Linked DNA regions of Homo sapiens: region 1 is linked to region 2. The links come from fine-mapping of genetic effects on gene expression. A gene starts in region 2. The other region holds a variant in brackets. All regions are shown on one strand. Distances are between the middles of the regions.

Region 1 (15,810 bases), 39 kb before region 2:
GTCTTAAGGAGTTCTCCCTCGTTGGCTTCCCAAAGTGATGGGATTACAGGTGTGAGCCACCATGCCCAGCCTAATTTTTGTATTTCAGGTTTTTTTTTGTTTTGTTTTGTTTTGTTTTTAGTAGAGATGGGGGTCTCTGTATGTTGCCCAGGCTGGCCTCAAGCAATCCTTGCCTCAAGTGATCCTCCTGCCTTAGCCTCTCAAAATACTGTGATTGCAGATGTGAACCACCATGCCCGGCCTGGGTCTCCAAATTTCTTTTTTTTTTTTAGAGACGGAGTCTCGTTCTGTCACCCAGGCTGGAGTGCAGTGGTGTGATCTCGGCTCACTGCAAGCTCTGCCTCCCAGGTTCACGCCGTTCTCCCGCCTCAGCCTCCCGAGTAGCTGGGACTACAGGCGCCCGCCACCATGCCCGGCTAATTTTTTTTTGTATTTTTAGTAGAGACAGGGTTTCACTGTGTTCGCCAGGATGGTTTCGATCTCCTGACCTCGTGATCTGCCCGCCTCGGCCTCCCAAAGTGTTGGGGTTATAGGCGTGAGCCACCGCACCTGGCCATGGGTCTCCAAATTTCTATGGGCATGAAGGAGACTGAGAAAGCTACTCTACTTCAGAAAGACATAACCACCAGTGTCCTCTCAATTGTGGCCAAGGAGAATAAGTGGAAAAGGGTGGTTTACTCTAAGGGCAGAGCCAAGAACATGGTGAAGAATGAACTAGGGAACTCTTCCCACTCCCAGGGAAAAGTGGGGGTTCTTCTCAACATCTGCCCAGCAGCACTTTAGACTTAGTGGGGCCCAGAGCCTGCTGTGTGTCTCCTGTCCTTCCTTCCTTTTTTTTTTTTTTTTTTTTTTTTGAGACAGAGTTTCACTTTTGTCACCCATGTTGTAGTGCAATGGCACTATCTCGGCTCACTGCAACCTCTGCCTCCTGGGTTCAAGCGATTCTCTTGCCTCAGCCTCCCGAGTAGCTGGGACTACAGGTGCATGCCACCACGCCTGGCTAATTTTTGGTTTTGGGGTTTTTTGTTTTTGTTTTTGAGACGGAGTCTTGCACTGTCGCCCAGGCTGGAGTGGAATGGCACGATCTCGGCTCACTGCAACCTCTGCCTCCTGGGTTCAAGCGATTCTCCTGTCTCAGCCTCCTGAGTAGCTGGGACTACAGGGGCCCGCCACCACGCCCGGCTAACTTTTTGTATTTTTAGTAGAGACCGGGTTTCACTATGTTGGCCTGGCTGGTCTTGAACTCCTGACCTTGTGATCTGCCCCCCTCGGCCTCCCAAAGTGCTGGAATTACAGACGTGAGCCACTGCGCCTGGCTAATTTTTGTATTTTTAGTAGAGACAGGTTTTCACCGTGTTGGCCAGGGTGGTCTCAAACTCCTGACCTCAGGTGATCCACCGGCCTCGGCCTCCCAAAGTGCTGGGATTACAGGCATGAGCCACCGCACCGGGCCCTGTCCTTCCTTCTGAACGGGAGTGTGCTCTGCTGTTCTCCTGTCCTTGTTCTGCTTTATATGTTGGATGTGTTCGTGTGTGTGTGTGTGTAGAAATGGGGCACAGGTAACTTGTCTCTGTCTCTCTCTTATTTTGTAGCTCATAGGTCTCTGAATCAAGAGAAGCCACATCTGGACCTGATATAGAAGAGACTATTAGAGATCCTGGGCTTGAGGCTGATTCCATGTCAGATGGGTCACTTAGGTGGTCTCCCTTGGGAAGGGGATGCATTTATTTTGCATATGGAAGAAAATGCAAAGGCAGTATTTGTAAGGAAGAGGGCAGACGGGGGAAGATTTTATAATTGTTCAAAAACATTCACTGGGATGTGTGTGGTGGCTCACGCCTATAATCCCAGTGCTTTGGGAGGGTGAAGCAGGAGGATCACTTGAGGCCAGGAGTTTGAGACCAGCATGGGCAACATAGTGAGACCCTATCTCTACAAAAAATAAAACAATAAAAAAAAATTAGCTGGGCGTGGTGGTGCTTGCCTGTAGTCCTAGCTACTTAGGAGGCTGAGGTGGGAGGATCACTTAAGCTCAGGAGGTAGAGGCTGCAGTGAGTTATGATTGCACCATGCACCTATGCACTCCAGCCTGGGCAACACAACAAAACACTGACTCTAAAAAAACAACCAACAAAAAAAAATCACATGTATTCACTGGCCCTCTCTTTGGGGACCTGCTACATAGAATGGTTTTTTGTCCCCAGTTCACTGACATCAGGTATGGCTATGTGGCTTGCTTTAGACCATGGACTTTGAGTGGAAATGACATGTGCCACTTCCACGAGGAAGCTTTAAAAGCCGTCATGGGGTCTGCCACCTTTCCTCTCTTCGGTGTCTGGAGACGGAAAGTTCCAGCTTGAGACTTTTCCTTCAGACAGGGCTCTAGAATGAAGATAGCATAGAACAGAGTGGTCCCATGGAGGACATGGATATGAGTGAGAAATCAACATGGTGTTGTGAGCCCCTAAGATTTGGGGGCTGCTATTACTGCAGCGTAACTGGATCCCAGCTGATAGATGCAGCCTCCCTGTGGGATACCCTGCTCAGGTATCCTTTCCCATCACCATGACAACTGACACACCATAATGAGCTATGCTGATGTTAGGAAGTCTCCGCCTTTGCTCCTCTTCAGAGCTGTTCACCCTCAGGTCCTAACCAGTGAGCCTATTTCTTTTTTTCTTTCTTTTTTTTTTTTTTTTTGAGATGGAGTCTTGCTCTGTCACCAGGCTGGAGTGCAGTGGTGCGATCTCGGATCAATGCAACCTCTGCCTTCTGGATTTAAGCAAATATTGTGCTTCAGCCTCCTGAGTAGGTCTGGAACTCCTGACCTCAGGCCATCCGCCAGCTTTGGCCTTCTAAAGTGCTGGGATTACAGGCATGAACCACCGTGCCCAGCCAAGCCGAGTCTTCTTGATTCTTGCTGGCATTTGGCAACTAGTAGCAGCTGCTCACAGGAACTGTAAAAACATCTGGTGGGGCCCAGACCTTCTAGCATCAACATGGTGCCTAGTAAATATCAATCTCACATGCATCCTGAGATGCATTAAAAAGAAGCTGTCCAGGCCGGGCACGGGGGCTCACGCCTGTAATCCCAGCACTTTGGGAGGCAGAGGCGGGTGGATTGCTTGAGCCCAGGAGTTTGAGACCAGTCTAGGAAACATGGCAAAATCCTAGCTCTATTTTTAAAAAGGGGGGGAAAAAGAAATAAAAAAGCTGGGCATGGTGGTTCACACCTGTAATCCCAACACTTTGGGTGGCTGAGGCAGGTGGATCACTTGAGAGACCAGCCTGGTCAACACCATGAAACCCCATCTCTACTAAAAATACAAAAATTAGCTACACCTCATGGTGCACACCTGTAGTCCCACCTACTCGGGAGGCTGAGGCAGGAGAATCGCTTGAACCTGGGAGGTGGAGGTTGCAGTGAGCCCAGATCACGCCACTGCACTCTAACCTGGGCTAGAGAGTGAGACTCTGAAAAAAAAAAAAAAAAAAAAAAGAGAAAAGAACATAATGTTTGGCCAGGCATGGTGCCTTACACCTGTAATCCCAGCAGTTTGGGAAGCCGAGGGGGCGGATCACCTGAGGTTAGTTCAAGACCAACCTAATCAACATGGTGAAACCCATATCTACTAAAAAAAAAAAAAAAATTAGCCAGGCGTGGTGGTGGATGCCTGAAATCCCAGCTACTTGGGAGGCTGAGGCAGAAGAATTGTTTGAACCCTGGAGGCAGAGGTTGCAGTGAACCGAGATTGTGTCACTGCACTCCAGCCTGGGCGACAAGAGTAAAACTCCGTCTCAAAAACAAAACAAAACAAAAAAGAATCATAATGGTTAGTAAGTGAAAATTCTGAATTAGTTTGTGTATGTGTATTGTTGCATATAATAGAGACCCAAATTAACTGTGGCTTAAATAAGATAGAAGTTTATTTCTCTCTTCTATAAAAGTCCAAGTTAGTATGATGGATCTTTCCATGAAATCATTAGGAGCCAGATTTTTTGTATCATTCATTCATTCATTGATTCATTACTACCATTAATAGAGACAATTTTCTGCACCATTCAGGCTGGAGTGCAGTGGTGCAATCATAATTCACTGTAACCTCAAAATCCTGGGCTCCAGCGATTCTCCTGCCTTAGCCCCAACAAAGTAGCAGGGACTACAAGCACATGCCACCACGCCTGGCTAATTTTTCTTTTTCTTTTTTGTAGAGGTGGGGTGTTACTATGTTGCCCAGGCTGGTCTCAAACTCCTGGCCTCAAGTGATCCTCCTGCTTCACCCTCCCAAAGCTCTGGGATGACAGGCATGAGCCACTCTGCCCCTCCAGGTCTTTTTTATCTTGTTGCTGTTCCATCCCTAGGGCGTTGCCCTCACCCACATGATCCAATATGATTCACCACCACTTCCACAGTCTGGCCCTTCTGAGGGGTGATGGTTTGCCCTTTGCCCTAAAGAGCATGATTCAGAAGTACAGATCATTTTTGCTCTAATCCCCATAGCCAGGATGTAGTCATATGGCTACATCCCGATGAAAGTGTTGCTGAGAAATAGAATCTCTACCCTGAGCAGCTTTTTGCCCAGATAAAAGTTCAGTTACTCTGGGAGAAGGGTAGAATGGATACTGGGGGACCATAAGCTGTTGCCACCACACACATTGAATGTTAACCCATCCCAACTGTATCAATTTTTCCTTCCTTTCCTTCCTTCCTCCCTCCCTCCCTCCCTCCCTCCCTCCTTCCTTCCTTCCTTCCTTCATTCCTTCCTTCCTTTGTTCCTTTCTTTCGACAGTCTCCCTCTATCCCCTAGGCTGGAGTGCAGTGTTGCCATCTCGGCTCACTGCAACCTCTGCCTCCCAGGTTCAAGCAATTCTCCTGCCTCAGCCTCCTGAGTAGCTGGGATTACAGGCGTGCTCCACCATGCCCAGCTAATTTTTGTATTTTTAGTAGAGACAGGATTTCCCCATGTTGGCCAGGCTGGTCTTGAACTCCTGCCCTCAGGTGATCCACCCACCTCAGCCTCCAAAAGTGCTGGGATTATAGGCGTGAGCCACTGCCTTGGCCTCAAACGGTATCAATTTTCTGTTACTGATTTAACCAATTATCATACACTCAGTGGTTTAAAACCACACACATTTACTTTCTTACAGTTCTGGAAGTCAGAAGTTCAAAATCAGTTTCATTGAGCCAATGTCTGGTGTCAGCAGGGCTGGTTTTTGTTGGTGGCTCTGGTGGACAATGTTTCCTTGCCTTCTTCAGCTCTTTTTTTTTTTTTTTTTTTTGAGACAGGGTCTCGCTCTGTTACCCAGGCTGGGGTGCAGTGGTGCAATCATAGCTCACTGCAGCCTCCATCTCCCAGGCTCAGGCGATCCTCCCGTGTTAGCCTTCTCAGTAGCTGGGACCACAGGCTCACGCCACCACGCCCTGCTAATTTTGTTTATTTTTTGTAGAGATGAGGTCTCACTCCATTGCCCAGACTGGTCTCAAAGTCCTGGATTCAGGAGATCCTCCTGCCTCAGCCTCCCAAAGGTCTGGGATTACAGGTGTGAGCCGTTGCACCCCACCCTCTTTCAGTTTAGAAAGGCTACCTGTATTCCTTGGCTGGTGGGTCCATCCTCCATTGGAAAGCACATGAATCCATCTCTGCCTTCATCATCACTCCACTTTCTCCTCTGAGACTTATTCCTCCTGTGTGCCTCTTAGGAGGATGTTCATGATTACATACCGCCCTCTTGGATAATCCTGAATAATCTCTCCATCTCAGGATCCTTCACATTTTCAAAATCCCTTTCACCATATAACGTGACATTCACAGATTCCAGGAATAGGACGTAGACATATTTAGGGGGGTTCTCTATTCAGCCTACTGTACCATGCCATTCCACACTTAACTCCTTCACTCATTTATTCATAAAATATGTATTGAGCAAGACCTGTGTGCCAGGCATTGTGTTAGGTGCTAGAGAAATAGAGGTGAAAATACAGACAAGGCCTCTGCTTTCATGGAGTTTATATTCTAGTGAAGAGGACAAGTAAATAGCTAAGCTATTCTTTTTTTTTTTTTTTTTTTTTTTGAGACGGAGTCTCCCTCTGTCGCCCAGGCTGGAGTGCAGTGGCGCAATCTCGGTTCACTGCAAGCCCCACCTCCTGGGTTCACGCCATTCTCCTGCCTCAGCCTCCTGAGTAGCTGGGACTACAGGCGCCCGCCACCACGCCCAGCTAATTTTTTGTATTTTTAGTAGAGACGGGGTTTCACCGTGTTAGCCAGGATGGTCTCGATCTCCTGACCTCATGATCCACCCGCCTCGGCCTCCCAAAGTGCTGGGATTATAGGCGTGAGCCACCATGCCCGGCCAAGAGCTAAGCTATTCTAAGCTATAACGTGTATTATCAAAACAATTAAGGCCAGGCACAGTTGCTCACACCTGTAATCACAACACTTTGGGAGGCTGAGGCGGGTGGATCATTTGAGGTCAGGAGTTTGAGACCAGCCTGGCCAACATGGTAAAACCCTGTCTCTACTAAAAATACAAAAAAATTATCCAGGTGTGGTGGTGCATGCCTGCAGTCCCGGCTACTCGGGAGGCTGAGGCACAAGAATAAGAATTGCTTGAGTGGGGAGGTGGAGGTTGCAGTGAGCCAAGATCATGCCACTGCACTACAGGCTAGGAGACAGAGTGAGACCCTGTCTTAAAAAAAAAGCAATTAGGCCAAGTGCAGTGGCTCATGCCTGTAATCCCAGCACTTTGGGAGGCCAAGGAGGGCAGATCACGAGGTCAAGAAATCGAGACCAGCCTGGCCAACATGGTGAAACCCTGTCTCTACTAAAAATACGAAAATTAGCTGGGTGTGGTGGCGCGTGCCTGTAGTCCCAGCTACTCGGGAGGCTGAGGCAGGAGAATGCCTTGAACCCGGGAGGTGGAGGTTGCAGTGAGCCGAGATCACGCCACTGCACTCCAGCCTGACGACAGAGTGGGAATCCATCTAAAAAAAGAAAGAAAGAAATTGGCTGGAGAATCGCTTGGACCCAGGGGTGGAGGTTGCCATGAGCTGAGATTGTGCCACTGCACTCCAGCCTAGGCAACAAGAGCAAAACTCCGTCTCAAAAAAAAAAAAAAAAATCCCAGCACTTTGGGAGGCCAAGGAGGGCAGATCACGAGGTCAAGAAATCGAGACCAGCCTGGCCAACATGGTGAAACCCTGTCTCTACTAAAAATACAAAAAATTAGCTGGGTGTGGTGGCGGGTGCCTGTAGTCCCAGCTACTTGGGAGGCTGAGGCAGGAGAATGGCATGAACCTGGGAGGCGGAGCTTGCAGTGAGCCGAGATCACACCACTGCACTCCAGCCTGGGCAACAGAGCAAGACTCTGTCTCAAAAAAAAAAAAAAAAAGAAAAGAAAAGAAATTAAACAGTGTGATGTGACAAAAAGTGATAGGGGGTTGGAGACAGCTTTTCTGTTGGATGGTTAGGAATGGCTTCTTAGAAAAGATGACTGACACATGGGAGGCTGATGTGGCAGATCACGAGGTCAGGAGATCAAGACCATCCTGGCTAACACGGTGAAACCCCGTCTCTACTAAAAAATAGAAAAAATTAGCCGGGTGTGGTGGCGGGCGCCTGCAGTCCCAGCTACTAAGGAGGCTGAGGCAGGAGAATGGCGTGAACCCGGGAGGCAGAGCTTGCAGTGAGCTGAGATCACGCCACTGCACTCCAGCCTGGACGACAGAGCGAGACTCCATCTCAAAAAAAAAAAAAGAAAGAAAAGATGGCTGACACAGAGGGCAGAGCTGAGAGCCAAGAGGGCAGAAAAGAGCCATAGAAAACCATTTCCAGGCCTGGAAGCCTAAAGGAATTTCCCAGCTGGATTTGCAGTTGCTTTGGATTGGTGACTCCTTTTTACCTTTCATTGTTAGGGGACCTGCAGGTTCCTTTGCCTGCTGTGCAGCTACAGCTCCATTACACCAAGACAATAGGGATGCAGCAGAGAGAGTTACTGGTGCAGGGCACCTAGTGCAGAGATGGGAAGAGGCCCTCAAATCTATCTCCCCGAGCAATTCTGGGAGAGGGTTTCTAAGGGGACTGTGGAGGGTAGGGGATTGTGGAGGGTAAGGTTTTGGGCAACTGGGTCATTGATTGATTGGGGGAAGGATGTAGAAGCTGCGTTTTTGGGGGAATTAGCTCCTTGTGGGGTCCTTCAGGTCAGCTGAGTCAGTAGTTCCATGAGGACCTGAAGGAATCTCTTTTCTTTTCTTCTTCTTCTT[C/T]TTTTTTTTTTTTTTTTTTGAGATGGAGTCTCTCTCTGTCGCCAGGCTAGAGGTGCAGGGGGTCGCAGGCTAGAGGTGCAGTGGCATGATCTTGGCTCACTGCAACCTCCACCTCCCGGGTTCAAGCAATTCTCCTGCCTCAGCCTCCCAAGTAGCTGGGACTAGAGGTGCGTGCCACCACACCCAGCTAATTTTTGTATTTTTAGTAGAGACAGGGTTTCACCATGTTGGCCAGGGTGGTCTCGATCTCTTGACTTCGTGATCGGCCCCCGCCCCACCCTCGGCCTCCCAAAGTGCTGGGATCACAGGAGTGAGCCACGGTGCCCAGCCTTAATTTTTGTATTTTCAGTGGAGACGGGGTTTCACCATGTTGATCAGGCTGGAGTGCAATGGTGCAATCTTGGCTCACTGCAACATTCGCCTCCTGGATTTGAATGATTCTCCTGCCTCAGCCTCCCAAGTAACTGGGATTACAGGAATGCGTCACCACGCCCGGCTAATTTTGTATTTTTTTAGTAGAGACGGGGTTTCACCATGTTGGTCAGGCTGTCTTGAACTTCTGACCTCAAGTGATCCACCTGCTTTGGCCTCCCAGAGTCTGAAGGAATATCTCAAAGGGAACACTTAATGTTGTGTAATGTCCAGGTTGTGATCCATAGAGCAGTTAAAGGTAAAGGTAACTATAATTTTTTTTTTTTTTTTTTAGACAGAGTCTCCCTCTCTGTCACCCAGGCTGGAGTGCAGTTTCACGATCTCGGCGCACTGCAACCTCCGCCTCCCTGGTTCAACCAATTCTCCTGCCTCAGCCTCTCAAGTGTGTGCTGCCATGCCAGGCTAATTTTTTTTTTTAGACGGAGTCTTGCTCTGTCACCCAGGCTGGAGTGCAGTGGCACAATCTCGGCTCACTGCAACCTCCGGCTCCTGGGCTCAAACAATGTGTTTTTTCCCCTAGTACTTTGGTGTTTGATTATCTTTTTTTTTTTTTTTTTTTTTTTTTTGAGATAGAGTCTCGCTCTGTCACCCAGGCTGGAGTGCAGTGGTGCAATCTTAGCTCACTGCAAGCTCTGCCTCCTGGGTTCATCCCATTCTCCTGCCTCAGCCTCCCAAGTAGCTGGGACTACAGGCACCCACCACCACGCCCGGCTAATTTTTTGTATTTTTAGTAGAGACGGGGTTTCACCATGTTAGCCAGGATGGTCTCGATCTCCTGACCTCATGATCTGCCCGCCTCAGCCTCCCAAAGTGCTGGGATTACAGGCGTGAGCCACTGCACCCAGCCTGGTGTTTGATTATCTATTATGTCAAACAGGCTGGGTTTAGTGGCTCACGCCTGTAATCCCAGCACTTTGGGAGACTGAGGTGGGAGGATCACTTGAGCCCAGGAGCTGAAGACCAGCGTAGCAATGTAGCAACTCCCTGCCTCTACAAAAAGTTAAAAAATTTAGCTGGGTGCACCAGTAGACCAGCTCCTCAGGAGGCTGAGGAGGGAGGATCACTCGAGCCCAGGAGTTCAAGGCTGCAGTGAGCTGTGATCATGCCACTGTACTCCAGCCCAGGCAATGGAGCGAGACCCTGTCTCAAAATAAATAAAACATGAAGAATGTCGAACACATTATCTGGTTTTTGTTTTTGTTTTCTTTTTTTGAGATGTTGTCTCGCTCTGTCACCCTGGCTGGAGTGTAGTGGTGCGATCTCGGCTCACTGCAACCTCTGCCTCCCGGGTTCAAGCGATTCTCCCGCCTCAGCCTCCCGAGTAGCTGGGACTACAGGTACGTGCCACCATGCCTGGCTAATTTTTGTTATTTTTTTTTTTTCAGTAGGGACAGGGTTTCGCCATGTTGGCCAGGCTGTTCTGAAACTCCTGACCTCAGATGATCCACCCACCTCGGCCTCCCAAAGTGCTGGGATTACAGGTGTGAGCCATCGTGCCCGGCCTGTTTTAAAAAACCATATTGGCCCAACTCGGTGGCTCATGCCTGTAATCCCAGCACTTTGGGAAGCCAAAGCAGGAGGATTGGTTGAGCTTAGGAGTTTGAGACCATTCTGGGCAACATGGTGAAACCCTGTCTCTGCACAAAAATAGAAAAATTTGCCACCTGTGCTGGTGTGTGCCTGTAGTCCCAGCTACTCTCAAGGCTGAGGGAGGAGGATTGCTTGTAGAGCCTGGGAAGTCGGAGCTGCAGTGAGCCATGATCACACCACCACACTCTAGCCTGACAGAATGAGACCTTATCCCAAAAGAAAAAATAAATGATATTGTATTATATGTGAACTTTGAATTATATTGTGTTGTATCTGAAGTTTGAATTTTCACGTTATGTTTAAAAATCTTGGCTGGGCGTGGTGGGTCACGCCTGTAATCCCAGCACTTTCGGAGGCCAAGGCGGGTGGATCACCTGAGGTCAGGAGTTCGAGACAAGCCTGGCCAACATGGTGAAACCCCGTCTCTACTAAAAATACAAAACTTAGCCGGGCATAGTGACATGCACCTGTAGTTCCAGCTACTCGGGAGGCTGAGGCAGGAGAATCGCTTGAACCCAGGAGGCAGAGGTTGCAGTGAGCTGAGATCGTGGCATTGTACTCCAGTCTGGGCAACAAGAGTGAAACTCCATCTAAAAAATAAAAAAGAAAAAGAAAAAATAATACAAGAAATTAGCCGGGCGTGGTGACAGGCACTTGTAGTCCCTCCCAGCTACTCAGGAGGCTGACGCAAGAGAATTGCTTGAACTTGGGAGGTGGAGGTTGCAGTGAGCTGAGATCGTGCCATTGCACTCTAGCCTGGGAAACAAGAGCAAAACTCAGTCTCAAAAATAAATAGCTTGAACCCGGGAGGCAGAGGTTGCAGTGAGCTGAGATTGCACCACTTCATTCCAGCCTGGGTGATAGAGCAAGACTCTATCTCTAAATAAATAAATAAATAATCCTTTAGGATGGCAATGAATTTAAGGACTAAACTAGGGAGAATCGACTTTTTTTTTTAAAATGGAGTCTTGGTCTGTCGCCCAGACTAGGGTGCAGTGGGCGCCATCTCGGCTCACTGCAACCTCCACCTTCCAGGTTCAAGGGATTCTTGTCCCTCAGCCTCCCAAGTAGCTGGGATTACAGGCACCCGCCACCATGCCTGGCTAATTTTTGTATTTTTAGTAGAGATGGGGTTTCACCATGTTGGCTATGGTTGGCCAGGCTGGTCTTGAACTCCTGACCTGAGGTGATCTGCCTGCCTCGGCCTCCCAAAGTGCTGGGATTACAGGCATGAGCCACTGTACCCAGCCCATTCGACATTATTTATTTATTTATTTATTTATTTATTTTTTGAGGTGGAGTCTCACTCTGTCGCCCAGGCTGGAGTGCAGTGGCACAATCTCGGCTCACTGAAACCTCCGCCTCCCGGGTTCAAGCCGATTCTCCTGCCTCAGTCTCCCGAGTAGCTGAGATTAGAGGCAACCACCACTATACCCGACTAATTTTTGTATTTTTCAGTAGAGATAGGGCTTCACCATGTTGGCCAGGCTGGTCTCGAACTCCTGACGTCAGTTGATCCTCCCACCTCAGCCTCCCAAAATGCTGGAATTAAAGCTGTAAGCCAGCGGGCCTGGTGGACATCTTTTAATAATCAGTCTTTCCATTCAGGTATATGGTATATGTCTCCATTTACTTAGGTCTTATTTCATATCCTTCAGGTTGGAGCTATCATTTCTTTTCATACAGGTTTTGCACATTTCTTGTGAGGTTTATTCCTTCATGGTCCATGGATTTTGTTGTGAATTGGGAATCCTTTTTCCACCAAGTATATTTTCTAATTTGTTACTTTAGTATACAGGAAAGATAACTAATTTTTATCTGCAGTTTATTATCTATGAAAGGATAAAAGTAGAACTACTCAGTAAAAGGTTTCCATAATCAAATAAGTATGGGCTAAACAAAGCTAAACAGATGTGTTCACTGCTGGACTTATCAATGCTTGTGATAATTTTTTTTTTTTTTTTTGAGGCAGAGTTTTGCTCTGTAGCCCAGGCTGGAGTGCAGTGGCGGGATCTTGGCTCACTGCAACCTCCACCTCCCGGGTTCAAGTGATTCTCCTGCCTCAGCCTCCCGAGTAGCTGGGACTATGGCATGCACCACCACATCTGGCTAATTTTTGTAATTTTAATAGAGACAGGGTTTCACCATGTTGACTAGGCTGGTCTCAGAACTGTTGACCTCAGGTGATCTGCCTGCCTCAGCCTCCCAAAGTGCTGGGATTACAGGTGTGAGCCACCACCACCAGGCAATTGAAGACGTATATTCTATGAAGAAATGGGTAGATTTTAATGAACAATACCCCTTTTGTGGGCAGATTCCTAAGTCCCAGGCCCTCACAACAAAGGGGCAGTGGGCCTGGAGATGCCAGCTTCAGCTGCCAGAGGGACTGCTCCTCCAGGGCCACCCCAGCCCACTTTTGATCACCAAGTTTTGATCACCAAGAATCCCAAGAAGGGCACAGGGAATTTCCTTTCTTACCTGCCCATGAAACCTTTTGTCACTAGACATCCTGAAACATACTTTGGGAAACTGCATCCAAAGACCCTTCTAGTTTCAAATCTGTGGATCCAGGGGTCTCCACTGAACCTTACCTGATGCCCAAACTCCCACCCATTCACTCCCAACCAGAACACAGAAGATGACCTGGTGCCAAAATGAAAGCTTTAATGAGTGTTACTCCTAGACAGTCACGTCTCAGCTTCTGCCAGCCTCCACTGTCCCAGCTCTCTTAGCTGGCCGACAGGGGAGCTAGTTGCTGAGGGGTAGGGATCTGGAGTCTAAAGAGCAGAGCCAGGCAAAAGGAGGTACAGGAAGCCCCCGATGGGGGCTGGGCTCCCGGAGTGTGGTGCTGGGGGGTCATGGGCTTCAGGCCGGCCCCTCTTCAGGCATTCCTAGCAAAGCCACCAGGGGCTCCAGGGGTGTGGGGGTCCCCATGGGCACAGGGTGGGTGCGTTCATGCTTGCGCAAGTCGCTGGCACTCAAGAAGGCCTTGGGACAATGGGGGCAGGTGTAGGGGCGCACTGAGCTGTGAGTGCGGCTGTGTTTGCGCAGCCCAGCCCGGTCAGAGAAGCTCTTGCCGCACTGGGTGCAGGGGAAGGGCCGGAGCTCCGGGTGTGAGCGCTCGTGCCGACGCAGCAGCGTCATTGTGGAGAAGGTCTCCTTGCACTCTCGGCACACAAACTGGGGGGGCTTCTCGTCAGCCTCCTCACCCCCCGCCTCGCCTGCCCCTTCCAAGGGACCAGGAGCCTCCCGGACACCAGCATCTTGGCATTCCACATGCTCCACCGTCATGCCCACCACCTGCCACTGTGTGGCCATCACACCACCTGACTCCGGGGGCAGCCCTAGCAGCCCTGCTGGAGGGTCCCCCAGCCCCGCCCCTGCTGCCGGGGCGGCTGAACTCTCACCTGCCACGCCCACAGGCAGCGCCAACCCCACCACCAGCTCCTGTGCAGGGGGCACACCCGCGGCCTCACTGCTTCGATGGGTCCGCTCGTGCTTCCTCAGGCTCGACGACACCACAAAGGATTTCCCACATGCGTTACAGTGGAAGGGGCGCTCCCCCGAGTGCACCCGGCTATGCTTCGTGAGGCTGGCACGCTCGGCGAAGGCTCGCCCGCACTCCTCACAGCGGAAGGGCCGCTGGCCAGAGTGCACCAGCGCGTGCCGCTTGAGGTCCCAGGACGCCACGAACGTCTTGTCACATTGCAGGCACTTGAACGGCCGGTCGCCTGTGTGCACACGCCGGTGCATGGCCAGGTCCGCCGGCTGCCGGAAGTCCTTGCCGCACTTCTCGCAGTGGTATGGCTTCACCCCTTCATGGGCGCGCTGGTGGCGACGGAAGCTCGAGGGGTCGGAGAACATGCGGCCGCAGCGCGGGCACAGGAAGGGCTTCTCCCCCGAGTGCGTGCGCTCGTGGCTCTGGTAGGAACTGAGCTGCGTGAAGCCCTTGCCGCAGGCCGGGCAGCGGTAGGGCTTCTGTGCCGCGTGGATGCGCTGGTGGCACGTGAGCGAGGATGAGCGGGAGAAGCTCTTCCCGCACTCGGAGCAGAGGAAGGGGCGCTCGCCGGTGTGGGACCTGCGGGGGTGTGGAGGACTTGGCATGAAGGCGACAGACCCATAACGTGACCCCACTGCCTGTCTGGGCTGTACTTTAGGGGCTCCCCAAACGTTCGTGGGGGCCTAGGCTTAATCCCCTAAGAGCCACATGGCTGCACCCCAGAGGAAGAAGCCTTCAGGCTGGCTGGGTGTCTCTATTCCAAAGACCTGTCTCTGCACATTAAAGACCAAGATATGGGCCGGGCGCGGTGGCTCACGCCTGTAATTCCAGCACTTTGGGAGGCCGAGGTCAGGAGATCGAGACCATCCCGGCTAACACGGTGAAACCCCGTCTCTACTAAAACTATAAAAAATTAGCCAGGCGTGGTGGTGGGTGCATGTAGTCCCAGCTACTCGGGAGGCTGAGGCAGGAGAATGGCGTGAACCCGGGAGGCGGAGCTTGCAGTGAGCCGAGATCTTGCCACTGCACTCCAGCCTGGGCGGCAGAGCGAGACTCCGTCTCAAAAAAAAAAAAAAAAAAAGAAAAAGAAAAAAAAAAAAGACCAAGACATGGCCAGGCGCGGTGGCTCACGCCTGTAATCCCAGCACTTTGGGAGGCCGAGGCGGGCGGATCACCTGAGGTCAGGAGTTCAAGACCAGTGTGACCAAAACGGAGAAACCCCGTCTCTACTAAAAATACAAAATTAGCCGGGCATGGTGGCGCATGCCTGTAATCCCAGCTACTCGGAAGGCTGAGGCAGGAGAATCGCTTGAACCCGGGAGGCGGAGGTTGCGGTGAGCCGAGATCGCGCCATTGCACTCTAGCCTGGGCAACAAGATCAAAACTCCGTCTCAAAAAACAAACAAACAAAAACAAAACAAAACAAAACAGAAAACCAAGATACGTGTCCTCCGCCTTTTTTTTCCTGTTCCCCAGGCTGGAATGCAGTGGCCTGACCATAGCTCACTGCAGCCTCGACCTCCCAGGCTCAGGCCATCCTCCCACCTTATCCTCCCAAGTACCCGGGACTAGAAGTGTACATCCCCACGCTCGGGTAATTTTTTTATTTTTATAGAGACGAGGCTTGCTGTGTTGCCCAGGCTGGTCTTGAACTCTTGGGCTCAAGCAATCCTCCTGCCTCAGCCTCCCAAAGTGCTGGAATTATAGGCGTGAGCTATTGTGCCCAGCCTAGAAACATGTCATTAATGTAGAGGCTGAGAAAAAGAAAAAAAAAAATGACCTAGACAAACCAGGCCCCACTCACACCTCCTGGTCTCCACAAAAGACCCTCAGAACTGCCCAACTCCAAACCCCGCCCCCTTTCCAGCTGGCCTACAACGGAGGCCAATCTGACCCAATCCCATTCTCAGAGATCAACCTCAAGGTGGTTGCCACCTCTGCCCAATCAGGGGCACCAATTTCTCCCACATGCCTAGCCCCTCCCCTTGGATCTGCCATGCCCACCTTCCCATTGGCTCACTTTACCCTG
Region 2 (15,810 bases):
AGTAGCTGGGACTACAGGCGTGCACCACCATGCCTGGCTAATTTTACAGTTTTTGTAGAGACATGGTCTTGCTATGTTGCACAGGCTAGTCTTGAACTCTTGGGCTCAAGCGATCCTCCCTCCGTGGCCTCCCAAAGGGCTGGGATTACAAGCGTGAGCTACTGTGCCCGGCCTCAGTCTGTGACTTTAAGCGAGGTCATTCCCTTGCAACCTGAGTTTTCTGATTTGTAAATCTTCTACCATGAAAGGTGGTTGTTACAATTAACTTGACAATATGTACCCAGTACATGGCAGATTCTCAGTAAATGGTTCTTTATTATTACTCTAGAGGCAGGGACTAGCCTTGTGGGGCTTGAGACAAATTGTCCACTCCCCAGAGCCGGAGACCCTGCCTGACCCCAGCCATGACTTACTTTTCAAAGCAGTGGGCAGCAGTGAGGACCCAGGTGTCTGCCACCAGGGAGCCGCTGCAGATGTGGGCTCCTTGCCTCCTCACACTGGCCTGCCAGGGCCACTCGCCAGGGACTGTGTTGCCCTCCTGAGGCTTGGGGGGGCCGGGGCCACGCTGTCCACAGGCTGTGGAAAGGAGTTAGTCACACTGACAGCAGATACCTGTCCTGACCTCACCCCAGTCCCAACCCAGACCCAAGTAAGACCTAGGCCCCGTGTCCCCAGACCTTACCACGCTGAGCGGCTTGAAGACCTGGGAAGAGAGAGACACAGGTAAGATGCAGGGACTCCAGGCCTGCCTAGCTTTGGGGAGGAGAGGGGATGGGCTGGGGGGCGGGCCCAGGGTCCTTGCCTGTGACTCTGATTACCTTACCAGCCCCTCCCAGAATGAAAATATTTATATGAGGCCGAGACAGCTTTTATTGGAACCTATTCAGTGTGCACACTCAGTAATTAATTCTCCTTCAGCTGTGCTCAGCACTCTGGGGCTTGGGGTTCAGCTTGGGAGTAGGCCAGCCCTCCTCCAGGCTTCAGAACCCCCAACTCCTGCCCCCGCCACTGAGTCAGCCAGGCGGCCTGTGTGTGTAGAGAGCATTAGCTTAATTGTCCTCTTAGCAGCAGAGGCCTAAGAGGAAGGATTAGAGGCCTGCATCATTTCCAAGTGGGGAGGGCCCCAAGAAATGGAGACTTACCTCACCCTGGTCTAGAGACTCAGTCTTCCCCACCTTCCCAGAAACTGTCTGAGAGCCCGCCAGAGAGAGGGCCCCTGCCCACCGCCCCTCACAGGCACACAGGCACCCCATGAGACAGCTGAGCCAGGCTGCCCAGAGGATGGATGAAAAGAAAGGGAAACTGAGGCCAGAGGAGCCCAGAGTTTGCCTGACGTCATTGTGGAAGTCGAGGGGGAGGCAGGCACAGGACACACGCAGGCAGCACCTCACACACACACAAGACCACAGGCCCCGCCAACGCAAACTGCAGCTGGCCCGAGAAAATCTCATCCATGTTGACACAGGTGGCCACATATACCACCCCACAGAGTCCTACGGAGTTACATCCCCACTGGTGGACTGTCGCCCACAGGCGGTCCCCCCACCAAGAAGCAGGGACTGCTGGGGCAGAGATGGCCCCTGAGCCCCCACCAGGCCACACCCATACCCCAGCACATGGCGGCTTACCCTCCATGAGGACTGTGGCACCCGCGATGAGCAGCACTGGGCCCCAGCACCACTTCATGCTGCCCCGGGCCACTCTGCCACCTGTGCTCCACTCTGAGAGAGGCCACCTGGGTCTCCCTGGCTCCACCTCTGCTCCACCTCCAGTTGGCTAGGATTCAGCTGTCTGCTTGCCCTAGCCAGCAGTTCCTAGCTCTGGGGCTGTGGCTGTGTGACCCTAGGCTTGTCACCACCCCTCTCTGGGCCTTAGCCGTGGAGCCAAATTGTCTGGGTTTAAATCTGTTTCCTTACTACTTGAGTGGCCTGGGAGAGCTAACCTGCCTGTGCCTTGTCTGAGAAACAGTTGTTGAATGGAAAACGTCTCAATGACAGCCTGGCACAGGGCAAGCTCACTCCCAGCATGAAAGTGCCATCCTGGAACCATGGAGGGCACGTGGGCAGCTCCTCCCAGTCCCCACTTTTCATTTCCACTCCCCCACTTCTCTTCCAGCCAGGGCTAGGTGGGTTTCACATGCCTTCTCCCAGGTCTGCTCAGAGACAGTGTGTGCCAGGCTGAGTGGTGAGGAGCCAGCACCCACTGCTGCTTGCTCGCTGTGAGCCTTTGGCAAATCCCAGTATCTCCCTGGGCCTGCTGGCTTCCTGGGAAACAGGGTGACAGCGGTGCCCACCTTCCTCATAGGCGCAGAGGACTCGGTCAGGCGGGAAGAACACTTTGGCGCGTGCCTCCTCTTCCTCTTCCCACTCCTAACTCAGGCTGGCCCAGACCATTCAAGAACCCTGACCCCAAGACAGAGGCAGCTGTGGGTAAGGTTTAGCATATATTATAGATGCTGGCCGGGCATGGTGGCTCACGCCTGTAATCCCAGCACTTTGGGAGGCCAAAGCAGGCAGATCACCTGAGGTCGGGAGTGCGAGACCAGCCTGACCAACATAGAGAAACACTGTCTCTACTAAAAATACAAAATTAGCCAGGCCTGGTGGCGCATGCCTGTAATCCCAGCTACTCGGGAGGCTGAGGCAGGAGAATCACTTGAACCTGGGAGGTGGAGGTTGTGGTGAGCCGAAATTGTGCCATTGCACTCCAGCCTGGACAACAAGAGCGAAAGTCCGTCTCAAAAACAAACCAACAAAAAAAAAAGCATATAGATGCTGGAGCCAGATGGACCAGGTGGATTCAAATCCTGAGAGCCTCCTGCAGTAGCTGTGTGATCTCAGGCATACTAATTAGCCACTCTGTCCCTATCATCAAGATAGGGATAATAATAGTACCCACCTCATAAATCACTGTAAAGATTAAACGAGTTTAACACGTTAACACAAGTTTTTTTTTGTTTTTTGTTTTTTTTTGGAGACGGTCTTGCTCTGTTGCTCAGGCTGGAGTGCAGTGATCATGGCTCACTGCAGCCTCAACCTTCTGGGCTCAAGCAGTCTTCCCGCCAGCTTCCCGATTAGTTGGGACTATAGGTACATACACCACCATGCCTGGCTAATTTTTTTTTTTTTTTTTTTTTGTAGAGACAGGGGTCTCACTATTTTGCCCAGGCTGGTCTGGAACTCCTGGCCTCAAGTGATCCTCCTGCCTTGGCCTCCCAAAGTACAGGGATTACAGGTGTGAGCCACTGCACCCTGCCAACACAAGTTCTTAAACAGTGCTTGGCATGTAGGTAAGTGGTCAGGGCATAATAGGCAAAACAAAAACCTTCACAACCTGGCCCTGACCCTCCAAGGCTACCAATACTGGCTTGGAATGGTCGATAAGGCAACTGGAGGGGTTAAAGTTAAACTCAAGGAAGAACTTCCCAGCAAGCATTTACAGAACCAGAAGGGCAGCCTGCCCTTCCAGGTGTGTGCTCAGCCTTCCCAGGAGAGGAGGCCTGGCTCCTGTGGGCAGCAGGAGCGAGCTGCCAGCCTGTTTCCTGGGGGTGGGGGCCAATGGTGCCCCAGGCCTTGCTGACTCCACACACTGGAGATGAGACTACCCATAACCACCCTTCCCAGCAGGCCCTCCACTCTCCCTCTGACTCACCCTTCCCAGCTCCAGAGAAGGCAACACCGAGGGAGGCCCAGCACCACAGTCCATGGCAGACACATGGTTCAGACTTGGCTGATTGATCTAAGAAACTTTATTGCTCAGAACCTTCCCTCCCTGGGCAATGGAAAGAGCTTTGGAGACCAGCCCATGGGGACAGAGTCAGAGGCACTGGGTGTAAAAAAGAGCGAGCGTGTGGCACATTTGGTCCATTGTCATGTGCGGGTATGGCAGGAGGAGGGGGTAATCTAGAAGCCCCACATCTAGGGCCTTCTAGGGACCCAGATATGCCCCCTTAGGCAAGGCTCACATGCCAAAGCAAAGCAGATGAGGTCAGCCTGGCTTGGGTTGAGGGCTCAGTGCCTCTTAGCCTTGCCCTGGGGTTCTTGGACCTTCCGGAAACTGAGCCACATCAGGCTCACGTTGATAGCATAGGTGGTGATACAAACAATGCAGAAATCATAGAGCACGAAGAACAGGATCCAGGCCAGGTAGACAGAACCAGCGAGAGACACCAGGGAGCTCAGCAGCATCAGGACAGAGGCCCAGCGTGTCCGCAGGCAACCTGCAAGGCAGAAGAGGGTCCGGTGTGGGCTTCAGGCACTGGCCACCTCCCGAACACTCCATGATGTCACTGCACTACCTAGATGCCAGGAGCTGCTGGGAAGGGTCTCTAAAACAAGAGGCTCCAGGGCAGATGTGGTGGCTTACGCACGTATTCCAAACACTCTGGGAGGCCGAGGTGGGAAGACTGCTTTAGGCTAGGAGTTCAAGACCAGCTTGGGCAACATAGAAAGACCCGATCTCTATCAAAAATTTAGAAATTCAGCTGGGCACGGTGGCTCATGCCTGTAATCCCAGTATTTTGGGAGGCCAATGGGGGTGGATCACCTGAGGTTAGGAGTTCGAGAGCAGCCTGGCCAACATGGCAAAACCCCATCTCTAATAAAAATACAAAAATTAGCCGGGTGTGTTGATGGGCACCTGTAATCCCAGCTGCTGGGGAGGCTAAGGTGGAGAATCGCTTGAACCTAGGAGGTGGAGGTTGCAGTGAGCCGAGATCATGCCACCACATTCCAGCTTGGGCAGCAAGAGCAAGACTTCGTCTCAAAAAAAAAATGCCCGGTGAGGTTGACTCACGCCTGTAATCCTAGCACTTTGGGAGGCCAAGGCGGATGGATCACCAGGTCAAGAGATTGAGACCATCCTAGCCAACATGGTGAAACCCTGTCTCCACTAAAAATACAAAAATTAGCTGGGCGTGGTGACACGCGCCTGTAGTCCCAGCTACTCAGGAGGCTGAGGCAGGAAAATTGCTTGAACCCGGGAGGCAGAGGTTGCAGTGAGCCAAGATCGTGCCACTGCACTCCAGCCTGGTGACAGAGCGAGACTATGTCGCAAAAAAAAAAAAAAAAAAAAAAAAAAAATTAGCTGGGTGCAGTGACATGCCTATAGTCCTAGCTACTCAGGAGGATCGCTTGAGCCAGGTTACAGTGAGCTATGATTGTGCCACTGCACTCCAGCCTGGGCAACAGAGCAAGATTATTTCTTAAAAAAAAAAAAAAAGAAGGCTTCAACAGGTCCCCTCCAAGGGACTGGTCTCTGAAGCTCTTGCCATTGCCCAGGGAGGGAAAGTTCTGAGCAATAAAATTTCTTAAATAAATCGGCCAAGTCTGAACCATGTGTCAGCCAGGACCATGGTGCTGGGCCTCCCTCAGTGATGCCTTCTCTGGAGCTGGGAAGGGTGACTCAAAGGGAGCGTGGGAGCCTGCTGGGAAGGGTGGTAATGGATAGTCTCATCTCCGGCATATGGCATCAGCAAGGCCTGGGGCGCCATCGTCTTCCACTCCCTTGGTTCCTCTCTCTGTTCTTATGGGACTAGATACAAATTTTCCTGCTGAGCACTAAATGAGACAAAAGATAGCTCATGCTCAGCTTCTCCTTAAAAAGGAATTTCGGCATCTTTTCCACAAAACTGGGGTGTTGGTGGGGCATGGTAGCTCACGCCTGTAATCCCCCCAGCACTTTGGGAGGCTGAGGCAGACAGATTGCTTGAGACCAGCCTGGGCAACATGGCGAGACACCATCTCTACCAAAAAAAAACAAAAACAAAAATTAGCTGGGCATAGTGGTGCACGCCTGTGATTCCAGCTGCTTGGGAGGCTAAGGTGGGAGGATCCCTTGGGCAGGGAGGCAGAGGTTGCCATGAACTGAGATCACGCCAGTGCACACTAAGGGCATCCTAGACCTCACTTTGGGCAACAGAGCCAGACCCTGTCTCAAAACAACAACAAACAAAAAACCTGGGGACCTAGGATGTCTTTAAGGGCCCTTCAGCCTCTAACAGTACTTAAACCAATTAAAAGACTCCTGTTAGTTACCTCCCCACATCCCCACCCGCAGGACGCTCCGTGATGAGCAGCTAGCTGGCTGTCAGCTGTGTGGATCACCAAGATTGCATGGAGTGGGGCTGAGCTGACCAAGGGGGATGAGGGGCGGGGCGGGGCGGGCAGGGAGGGGGCGGAGCCACTCACCTAACAATAGCTGTAGTGTGTAGAAGATGCAACCGAATATGCTGTTGGATTGATTGAGGATGCTGTCCTGTCCCAGCACATGCTCCACCAGCCCGAAACCCCTGCCCCACCTGGCAGAGGGGTGGGGTGGGGTGGAACCAGGTTAGGACTGTCAACCCAGTGCCTTGGACCCTGCCCGAGAAAGGTGATTTCCAAGAAGCCACCTGGGCTATCCTCTGTTCCCCGACCTCCCATCCTAGTCCAAGGGTCGATGATCTCCTGGCACCGGGCACCTTTGGCCACGTCAGGATTCCATGTCACTGACCCTATCCTCCCCTCTCCCCAGACCAGGCCCGGACGTGGCTACTCCGTAGGCCCTGCTTTTCATCTTAGACCTTAAGTAAGTCTCTTTTTTTTTTTTTTTTTTTTTTTTTTTGAGACGGAGTCTCACTCTGGCCCAGGCTGGAGTGCAGTGGCGCGATCTCGGCTCACTGAAACCTCCGCCTCCCGGGTTCAAGCGATTCTCCTGCCTTAGCCCCCCCGAGTAGCTGGGATTAAGGCACCCGCCATAGCGCCCGATTAATTTTTCTATTTTTGGTAGAGACAGGCTTTCACCATGTTGGCCAGGCTGGTCAACTCCTGACTTCAAGTGATCCATCCGCCTCGGCCTCCCAAAGTGCTGGGATTACAGGAGTGGGCCACCGCGCCCGGCCCTTAAGTAATTCTTAAAATGGCAAGGCTGGTATAACGGTTCACTCGGTTTTGCATCAGAGACTGGGAGTCGGGGGCAGATTATCTTTGCCCTGGACCCCAGAATCTCCAGCTCCCTGGCCACTCACTCGCCTCCTCTGTATTCCGTCATTATGCTAACGCCTGGCCATCACGCACAGCCAGACCGGGCCACCTTGTTCCTGGGCGCAGCCATCGCCAACACCCCCCTTCACCTGCGCGCCGTCCTTGAGACCATCGTCAATCTCTACCGCCATCCTGCCTCCCCGCCTTTCCTGGTCACCGTTATTCCTTGGCATCCAATTCACGTGCGAGTCCCCGGAATAATCCCAGTCCCCAGCACTGTCTGGTCCCTTGCCTCGCACTCTTATTTCGAACACCAGTATCGCTGGGTAGCTCAGCCCCTGTGCAACGACCCCGCGAGCAGTCCAGCCCCGTGTCCGTTCCCCGGGCACACCGATCCCAGACTCCAGAATAATCATCTGGCATCCTGGCCGCCCTGCTCCGAGGCCCCACGCCTCCCACTCCCGTGCACACCTGGAGGAGAAGACGCGCGAACAGCTGATGGCGGTGCCCACGTCGCAGAGCGCGCGGTAATCCCGGTCCCGGGCGCGCGCCGCCTTCACGTGCAGCGCGTAGAGCGAGAGCACTAAGCCCGTCAGGCAAAGAGCGAGCCGCACCCAGCCAGGGCTCCCCCAGGTGCTGCCCATTATCTCCAGGTTCCGCCCGAGGCGCCCGCGGAGAAAACCAGCCACGGAGCAGGGGCCGGGCGGCGAATGGCCGCGCCCCTCCTGGCCCTCTGACTCGGCGATTGGCCGGCCGTGCTCGCACTCCACGACCCAAATGGCTGTTCCAGGGCGCTAGTCAAGCGGGCGAGTTAGGAAAACAGCGAAGAATGCCGGGACTAGTGAAGCGGGTAAGGGACGTGCGGAATCGCGGCCCCAGCGGCTGCCAGGCATGATGGGAGTTGTAGTCGGCGCGGCTGCAAGGCATCAAGGGAAATGAAGTCTCCACAGATTTAAAAACTGTTGGCCGGGCACGGTGGCTCACGCTTGTAATCCCAGCACTTTGGGAGGCCGAGGCTGGCGGATTACCTGAGGTCAGGAGTTCAAGACCAGCCTCGCCAACATGGTGAAACCCCATCTCAACTAAAAATACAAAAATTAGCCGGGCGTGGTGGCACATGCCTGTAATCCCAGCTACTCGGGAGGCTGAGGCAGGAGAATTGCTTGAGCCGGGGAGCCGGAGGTTGCAGTGAGCCGAGATCGTGCCACTGCACTCCAGCCAGGCCGACAGAGTGAGACTCTGTCTCAAAAAAAAAAAAGAAAAAAAAAAGTGTGTTAGTGTGGTTAACAGCATTTGCGCTTACCCTATGCCAAGTCCTGTTGTAAGAATTGCAGCATCCGGGACCTAGAGACCAGCGGATCAGGGGATCCAGCGAATACGGCGATCCGATTCGGGAACCAAGCATTTCCCCTGAAACTATTTCAGGCACCATTCGGGCTGCAGCCTCCCATCCTCCCGGGTCCTGCCTCACCAGTGCTTCCTGGTGGTCGGTCTCCCTTTCTCCCATACATTCACAGAACCACTCCTTTGGCCACACACACCCTTGACAGTATCCTAACCTCTCTACTATCATGGCGCCCGCCTGGCAACACCTGAGCTTGCATCAACTCAACAGTCAGTCTCTCCTTTCCAAGCTGTGGGCCAGATGAGGTCTCTCCTTCACAGACGTCCCATCTGATGGTGACCCATCTCTCCTACACCTTCAACCTCTCCATCCTCCCCATCTACACTGCAACTTGTTTCTCTTTCCCATCTCAGAAACAGCAACAAATCTCCCTTCACTAAGAGGTCCTTCACCAGCCTCCTCTCCCGGCATTATCCCATCTACCCCTCCACATTCAAGTTTTTGGAAAGATTCTACACTCCCAGTCTCTACTTCCTCACTTCTTCCTTGCTGCCCACGCCATAAACTAGCTGCTGCCTCCAGCATTGCCCTGACACCTAGTGGCTGGTGTCACCAAGACGCTAGACCCAATGGTTATTTATTTATTTATTTACTTATTTTGAGACGGAGTCTCACTCTGTCGCCCAGGCTGGAGTGCAGCGGTGCCATCTCGGCTCACTGCAACTTCCGCCTCCAGGGTTCAAGTGGTTCTCGTGCCTCAGCCTCCCAAGTAGTTTGGACTACAGGTGCCTGCCACCATGTCTGGCTAATTTTTGTATTTTTAGTAGAGACAGGGTTTCACCATGTTGGCCAGGCTTGTCTTAAACTCCTGACCTCAAGTGATCCACCCACCTCGGCCTCCCAAAATGCTAGGATTATAGGCGTGAGCCACCGCACCCGGCCAATGGTTGTTTTTCAGGTCTTCTCTTGCTTGACTTCCCAGAGGGATCCCTTACTGTTGCACCTACCCTTCTGGGAACTCTCTTCCTCTGGCGTCTGTGATATTTCCCTCTCCTGCTGGCTCCTCCCTCTCCAGATGCTGTTTCTCACATCTACTCTCTTCTAGAGAGTGTGGTAGACAGAATAATGGTCACCAAAGATGTCCCTGCATGAATCCCTGGAACTTGTGAATATGATAGGTTAAATGGCCAAAAGGGAATTAAGGTTGCAGATGGAATTAAGCTGACCAATCTCCTGATTTTATTTTATTTTATTTTGTTTTTGAGGTGGAGTTTCGCTCTTGTTGCCCAACTGGAGTGCAATGGTGTGATCTCGGCTCACTGCAACCTCCGCCTGCCAGGTTCGAGAGATTCTCCTGCCTCAGCCTCCCGAGTAGCTGGGATTACAGGCACCCGCCATCATGCCTGGCTAATTTTTTAAATTTTTAGTAGAGACAGGGTTTCGCTATATTGGCCAGGCTGGTCTTGAACTCCTGACCTCAGGTGATCCGCCCACCTCGGCCTCCCAAAGTGCTGGGATTACAGGCGTGAGCCACCGTGCCCAGCCTATCTATCTATTTATTTATTTATTTTTGAGATGGAGTTTTGCTCTTGTTGCCCAGGCTAGAATGCAATGGTGCTATCTCGACTCACCGCAACCTCCACCTCCCCGGTTAAAGCGATTCTCCTGCCTCAGGCTCCTGAGTAGCTGGGATTATAGGCATGTGCCACCACGCCTGGCTAATTTTTTGTATTTTTAGTAGAGATGGGGTTTCTCCATGTTGGTCAGGCTGGTCTCAAACTCCTGACCTCAGATGATCCACCCACCTGGGCCTCCCAAAGTGCTGGGATTATAGGCGTGAGCCATCATACCAGGCTCTATTGATTTATTTTTATTTTTATTTTTGAGACGGAGTCTCGCTCTGTTGCCTAGGCTGGAGTGCAGTGGCACAATCTTGGCTCATTATAACTTCCGCCCCCCCCCAGGTTCAAGCCATTCTCCTGCCTCAGCCTCCCGAGCAGTTGGGACTACAGGCGCGTGCAACCATGCCTGGCTAATTTTTGTATTTTTAGTAGAGACGGGGTTTCACTGTGTTGGCCAGGCTGGTCTCGAACTCCTGACTTTGTGATCTGCCTGCCTCAGCCTCCCAAAGTGCTGGGATTACAAGTGTAAGCCACCACGCCCAGCCTATTTTGTTTATTTTTTCAAAGACCCTTGACACCCAGGCTGGAGTGTAGTGGCACTGTCATAACTCACTGCAACCTCCGTCTCCCAGGTTCAAGCGATTCTTGCACCTCAGCCTCCCTAGTAGCTAGGAGTACAAGTACGTCCCACCACACCTGGCTAATTTATTTTTATTTTTGTAGAGATGGGGTCTCACTTTGTTTCCCAGGCTGGTCTAAACTTCTGGTTTCAAGCAACCTTCCCACCTCAAAGTGCTGGGAGTACAGGCATGAGCCACCACCACACCTGGCCTAATTTGCTGATTTTTATTTATTTTTTATTATTTATCTTAATTTTTATTTTGAGACAGAGTCTTGCTCTGTCATCCAGGCTGGAGTACGGTGGTGCAATCTCAGCTCACTGCAACCTCCCCCTCTCGGGTTCAAGCAATTCTTGTGCCTCAACCTCCCAAGTAGCTGGGATTATAGGTGCTGGCCACCACGCCTGACTAATTATTGTAATTTTTTTTTTTTTTAGTAGAGACGGGATTTCACCATGTTGGCCAGGCTGGTCTTGAACTCCTGACCTCAAGTGATCCACCTGCCTCAGCCTCTCAAAGTATGGGGATTACGGGTGTGAGCCGCCGTGCCTGGCCCAATTTTTGTATTTTCAGTGGAGATGGGGTTTTGCCATGTTGGCCAGGCTGGTCTGGAACTCCTGACCTCAGGTGACCCGCCTGCCTCCGCCTCTCAAAGTGCTGGGATTACAGGCATAAGCCACCATGCCTGGCCCACAGGGGTCCTTAAAAAATGAAGGAGGATGGCAGAAGAAAGTCAGAGGGAGATGTGAGTAAAGAAAAAAGACACAGAGAGCTGCAATGTTTCTGGTTTGAAGATGGAGGAAGGGGATTGTGAGCTAATAAATACGGGTGGCCTCTAAAGGCAAGAAAGGGTAAAGAACTGGATTCTCACTCTAGAGTCACCGGGAAGGAACTATCAACATCTTGATTTCAGCCCAGTGAGACTCTGTCAGACTTCTAAGCTACAGAACTGTAAGATAAATTTGTGTTGTTTTACATCATTAAATGTGCAGTAACTTGTTACAGCAGCAATTAGAAATGAATACAGAGGACTGGGCATTAGGCCTGTATCTCAGCTTTCTCTGATCTCCTGGTGTGTTCCTGTTATTTATTGTTGGTTTCCCCCAGAATGAGTGATCTAAGAGGAAGCAAAATAGAAGCCGCAATCTCTTTATGACTTAGCCTCAGAAGACACACACTGGGGCCAGGTGCAGTGGCTTATGCCTATAATCCCAGCACTTTGGGAGGCTGAGGCAGGAGGACCACTTGAGCCCAGGAGTTTGAGACACCCTGGACAACACAGGGAGACCCTCACTCTATAAAAAATAAACAAAATTAGCCAGGTGTGGTGGTGCACACCTGTAGTCCCAGAACTTTGGGAGGCTGAGACAAGACAATGACTTGAGCCCAGGAGTTTGAGACAGGTCTGGACAACGTGGTAAGACTCTGTCTTTATAAACATTTTTAAAATTAGGCGGGGCATGGTGGCTCATGCCTGTAATCCCAGCAATTTGGGAGGCTGAGGTGGGTGGATCACCTGAGGTCAGGAGTTTAAGACAAGCTTGGCCAACATGGCGAAACCTCGTCTCTACTAAAAATACAAAAATTAGCCGGGCATGGTGGTGGGTGCCTGTAATCCCAGCTACTCAGGAGGCTGAGGCAGGAGAATCATTTGAACCCGGGAGGTGGAAGTTGTAGTGAGCCGAGATTGCCTTCCTCACTCCAAGAGTTATAAAAGATTTTGACCATATTTTCTTCTAGCATTTAATCAATTAATTAATTAATGTGAGACAGTCCCACTCTGCTGCCCAGGCTGAAATGCAGTGGTGCAATCTCGGCTCACTGCAACCTCTGCCTCCCGGATTCAAGTGATTCTCCTGCCTTAGCCTCCTGAGTAGCTGTGATTACAGGCACCAGCCACTATGCGTGGCTGATTTTTGTGTTTTTAGTAGAGACGGGGTTTCACCATATTGGCCAGGCTGGTCTCAAACTCCTGACCTCATGATCCGCCCTCCTTGGCTTCCTAAAGTGCTGGGATTACAGGCGTGAGCCACTGTGCCTGGCCTTTTTCTTTCTTTTTTTTTTTTTTTCATTAGAGATGAGTTGTTGTTATGTTGCCTCTAACTCCTGGGCTCAAGCAGTTCTCCCACCCTGGCTTCCCAAAGTGCTGCTGGGATTACAGGAGTGAGCCACTGCCCCCAGCCTCTGACAGTTTTTGTGCACTAGGAATTTGGGAAGACAATTTTACCTGGCTATTTCTGGCTCATACAATTGCAGTCAGATGGTGGCTAAAGCTGGAACAATAAGCAGCTAAAACAGCTGAAAGATAACCTAGCATTCTCTCTCCCTTTCTCTGAGTAGTCTCCGAACCTATCTATGTTGTCCTCTGCATGGGCTAGCTTGGGCTTCCTCACAGCATGGCAGCCTTAAGGCTTTAATAGTCAGCTTCCAAAATGGTCCTCAGTGATTCCTGCTTCCTGGTATTGATACCATTGTGAAGTCTCTTCTCACATTGAAAGGGGCTGAACTGGCCCATTGGGATAATGCAGAAATGACAGTGTGTGACTTTAGAGGCTAAATCATGAAGATATTGTGGCTTCCATCTTGCTCCTTTGTAGATCACTCATTCTAGACAAAGCCAGCTACCATGATATGAAAGCACTCAAGTAACCCTAGGGAGAGAGGTCTCCTTAGTGAGGAACTGAGGCCCTGTAAGAAACGTGGGTGTGCTGCAGTCAAGTGGGCATAGGCCAAAGTAAACATCCAGAGTGACTCAGTGAGTTTAGAGTGCAGGCATATAGCTCCACTTGTTATCACAGCCGTGTAGCCATAACATGGGAAGGCTCATCACTTGGCTCTGAGCCACTGTTGTCTGTAAAAGGTATAATTGCCCTGCTGACACTGTGCACAGGGCTCGGCCCAACATGGCTTGACATGGGACATGGCTCTTGTGCAGGTGCTTGTACCCAGAGAAAGAGAGAAAGCCAGAGCTGTCCATCTCGGGGAAGCCAAGACACAGCTCAGCTAGCTCATGCCCAGAGGGAGAAAGAGTAAGGCTGTGGGGTGTGGTGGCTCATGCCCATAATCCCAGCACTTTGGGAGGCCAAGGCAGGTGGATCACAAGGTTAGGAGTTTGAGACCAGCCTGGTCAACATGGTGAAACCCCTTCTCAACTAAAAATACAAAAATTAGCTGGCCATGGTGGTGCATGCCTGTAATCCCAGCTACTCAGGAGGCTGAGGCAGGAGAATTGCTTGAACCCAGGAGGCAGAGGTTGCAGTGAGCCGAGATCACACCACTGCACTCCAGCCTGGGCAACAGCGCGAGACTCCATCTCAGGAAAAAAAGAAAAAAGAAAAGAAAAGAAAGAGTGAAGCTGCTGACCCTGAAGGGAGAGCTGGCCACACAGCTGTGTGTGTGTGGGAGCTGCCGGAGTAAGCAGCTGAGACAGAGCAGACAGTGCGAGAGTAAGATGTTGATGATGAGAGAGCTGCTGAATAAAGCCATGTCTCATTTACCTGCTGTCTCTCGAGTGTTCTTCTAGCTCCCTGCCTCACGTCCACTGCTTCCTCTCACACCTCAGCTGGGGCTGGACCCCAACCCTGAGCATGACGGGCCTTCTGTCAACAACCAGCAGTAACCTGCTGGGCATGTGAGGGAGCTACCTTGGAATCAGATTCTGTAAAACAGTCACGCCTTCAGATGACGGTAGCATTGGCCAACATTTTGACTGCACTTCATGAGAGACCCTGAGCCAGAACCCCCTAGATTCCTAACCCAAGGAAACTGTGTGTGATAAGTGTTTATTGTTTTTTTTTTTTTTTTTTTTTTTTGAGAAAGAGTCTCGCTCTATTGCCCAGGCTGGAGCACAGTGGCACAATCTTGGCTCACTGCAAGCTCCGCCTCTCAGGTTCACACCATTCTCCTGAATCAGCCTCCTGAGTAGCTGGGACTACAGGCACCCACCACCACGCCTAGTTAATTTTTTTGTATTTTCAGTAGAGACAGGGTTTCACCGTGTTAGCCAGGATGGTCTCAATCTCCTGACCTCGTGATCCGCCCGCCTCCGCCTCCCAAAATGCTGGGATTACAGGCGTGAGTCACCACACCCGGCCAGTGTTTATTGTTTTAAGATATTGGCTAGGCGCAGTGGTTCACACCTGTAATCCCAGCACTTTGGAAGGCCGAAGTGGGAGGATCACTTGAGCTCAGGAGTTCAAGTTCAAGAACAGCCTGGGCAACATAGTGAGACCTTGTCTCTATTTAAAAAAATGTTTTTAAGATGTTATGTTTGAGCTGGGTATGGTGTGGCTCACGCCTGTAATCCCAGCACTTTGGGAGGCTGAGGTGGGTGGATCACCTGTGGTCAGGAGATGGAGACCAGCCTGGCCAACATAGTGAAACCCCGTCTCTACTAAAAATACAAAAAATTAGCTGGGCATGGTGGTGGGCGCCTGTAATCCCAGCTACTAGGGAGGCTGAGGCAGGAGAATCGCTTGAACCCGGGAGGCAGAGGTTGCAGTGAGCCAAGATCGTGCCATTGCACTCCAGCATGGTGCTATGTTTTGGAGGTAATTTGTTACACAGCAATAAATAATTCGTACAGGGCACCAGCCTGGCCAACATGGAGAAACCCTTCTCTAGTAAAAATTATCCGGGTATGGTGGTGCATGCCTGTAATCCCAGCTACTTGGGAGGCTGAAGCAGGAGAATCCCTTGAACCTGGGAGGTGGAGGCTGCAGTGAGCCAAGATCGCACCACTGCACTCCAGCCTGGGTCACAGAGCAAGACTCTGTCTCAATTTAAAAATAAAATAATAATAATATAGGGCAGTCAGACTGCCCACCTGGCAGCTCAGGACTAGCACATGTGCTCCAGAAAGCCAGGTGGAAGCTACATATTTTATGATCTAAACTCAGAAGTCATATAGCATCTGTTCCACTGTAATCACAAGCCTTCCCAGTTCCAAGGGGAGGGAACATAGACTCCCTCACCTCTTGATACAAGAAGTGTCAAAGTTATATGGTAAGAAGTTGGCCAGGCCCTGCTTGTCTCTGTTGTTCATGCCTGTAATCCCAGCACTTTGGGAAGACGAGGCAGATGGATCACCTGAGGTCAGGAGTTTGAAGCCAGCCTGGCCAACATGGTGAAACCCTATCTCTACAAAAATACAAAAATTAGCTGGGCATGGTGGTATGCACCTGTAATCCCAGCTACTTGGGAGGCCAAGGCACGAGAATTGCTTGAAGCTGGGAGGCAGAAGTTGCAGTGAGCCGAGATTG

The links. PIP is the estimated chance that this variant, and not a neighbour inherited with it, causes the effect.
Region 1: its variant is fine-mapped to the expression of VKORC1 in whole blood (INTERVAL, PIP above 0.99).

Annotation. Positions count from the first base shown.
Region 1 is chr16:31,047,921-31,063,730 of GRCh38, forward strand. ZNF668 (zinc finger protein 668) reads right to left here. Exons shown (of 3, transcript NM_024706.5): 3 at 12,927-14,360. The coding sequence ends at 13,148. Among named protein-coding and RNA genes, the nearest start is that of ZNF668, 18 kb to the right of the region's middle. RefSeq lists an enhancer at 15,730-15,810. The variant C/T (reference allele first, on the strand shown) is at 8,261.
Region 2 is chr16:31,087,124-31,102,933 of GRCh38, forward strand. VKORC1 (vitamin K epoxide reductase complex subunit 1) reads right to left here and starts at 7,674. Exons shown (of 3, transcript NM_024006.6): 1 at 7,434-7,674; 2 at 6,189-6,298; 3 at 3,731-4,219. The coding sequence starts at 7,606. The coding sequence ends at 4,011. LOC124903680 (zinc finger protein ENSP00000375192-like) reads right to left here and starts at 8,882. Exons shown (of 1, transcript XM_047435012.1): 1 at 7,761-8,882. The coding sequence starts at 8,255. The coding sequence ends at 7,761. PRSS53 (serine protease 53) reads right to left here and starts at 1,820. Exons shown (of 11, transcript NM_001039503.3): 1 at 1,629-1,820; 2 at 683-703; 3 at 414-576. The coding sequence starts at 1,686. RefSeq lists enhancers at 5,899-6,607, 7,788-7,967, 7,998-8,047, 8,098-8,147, 8,663-8,842 and 1 more.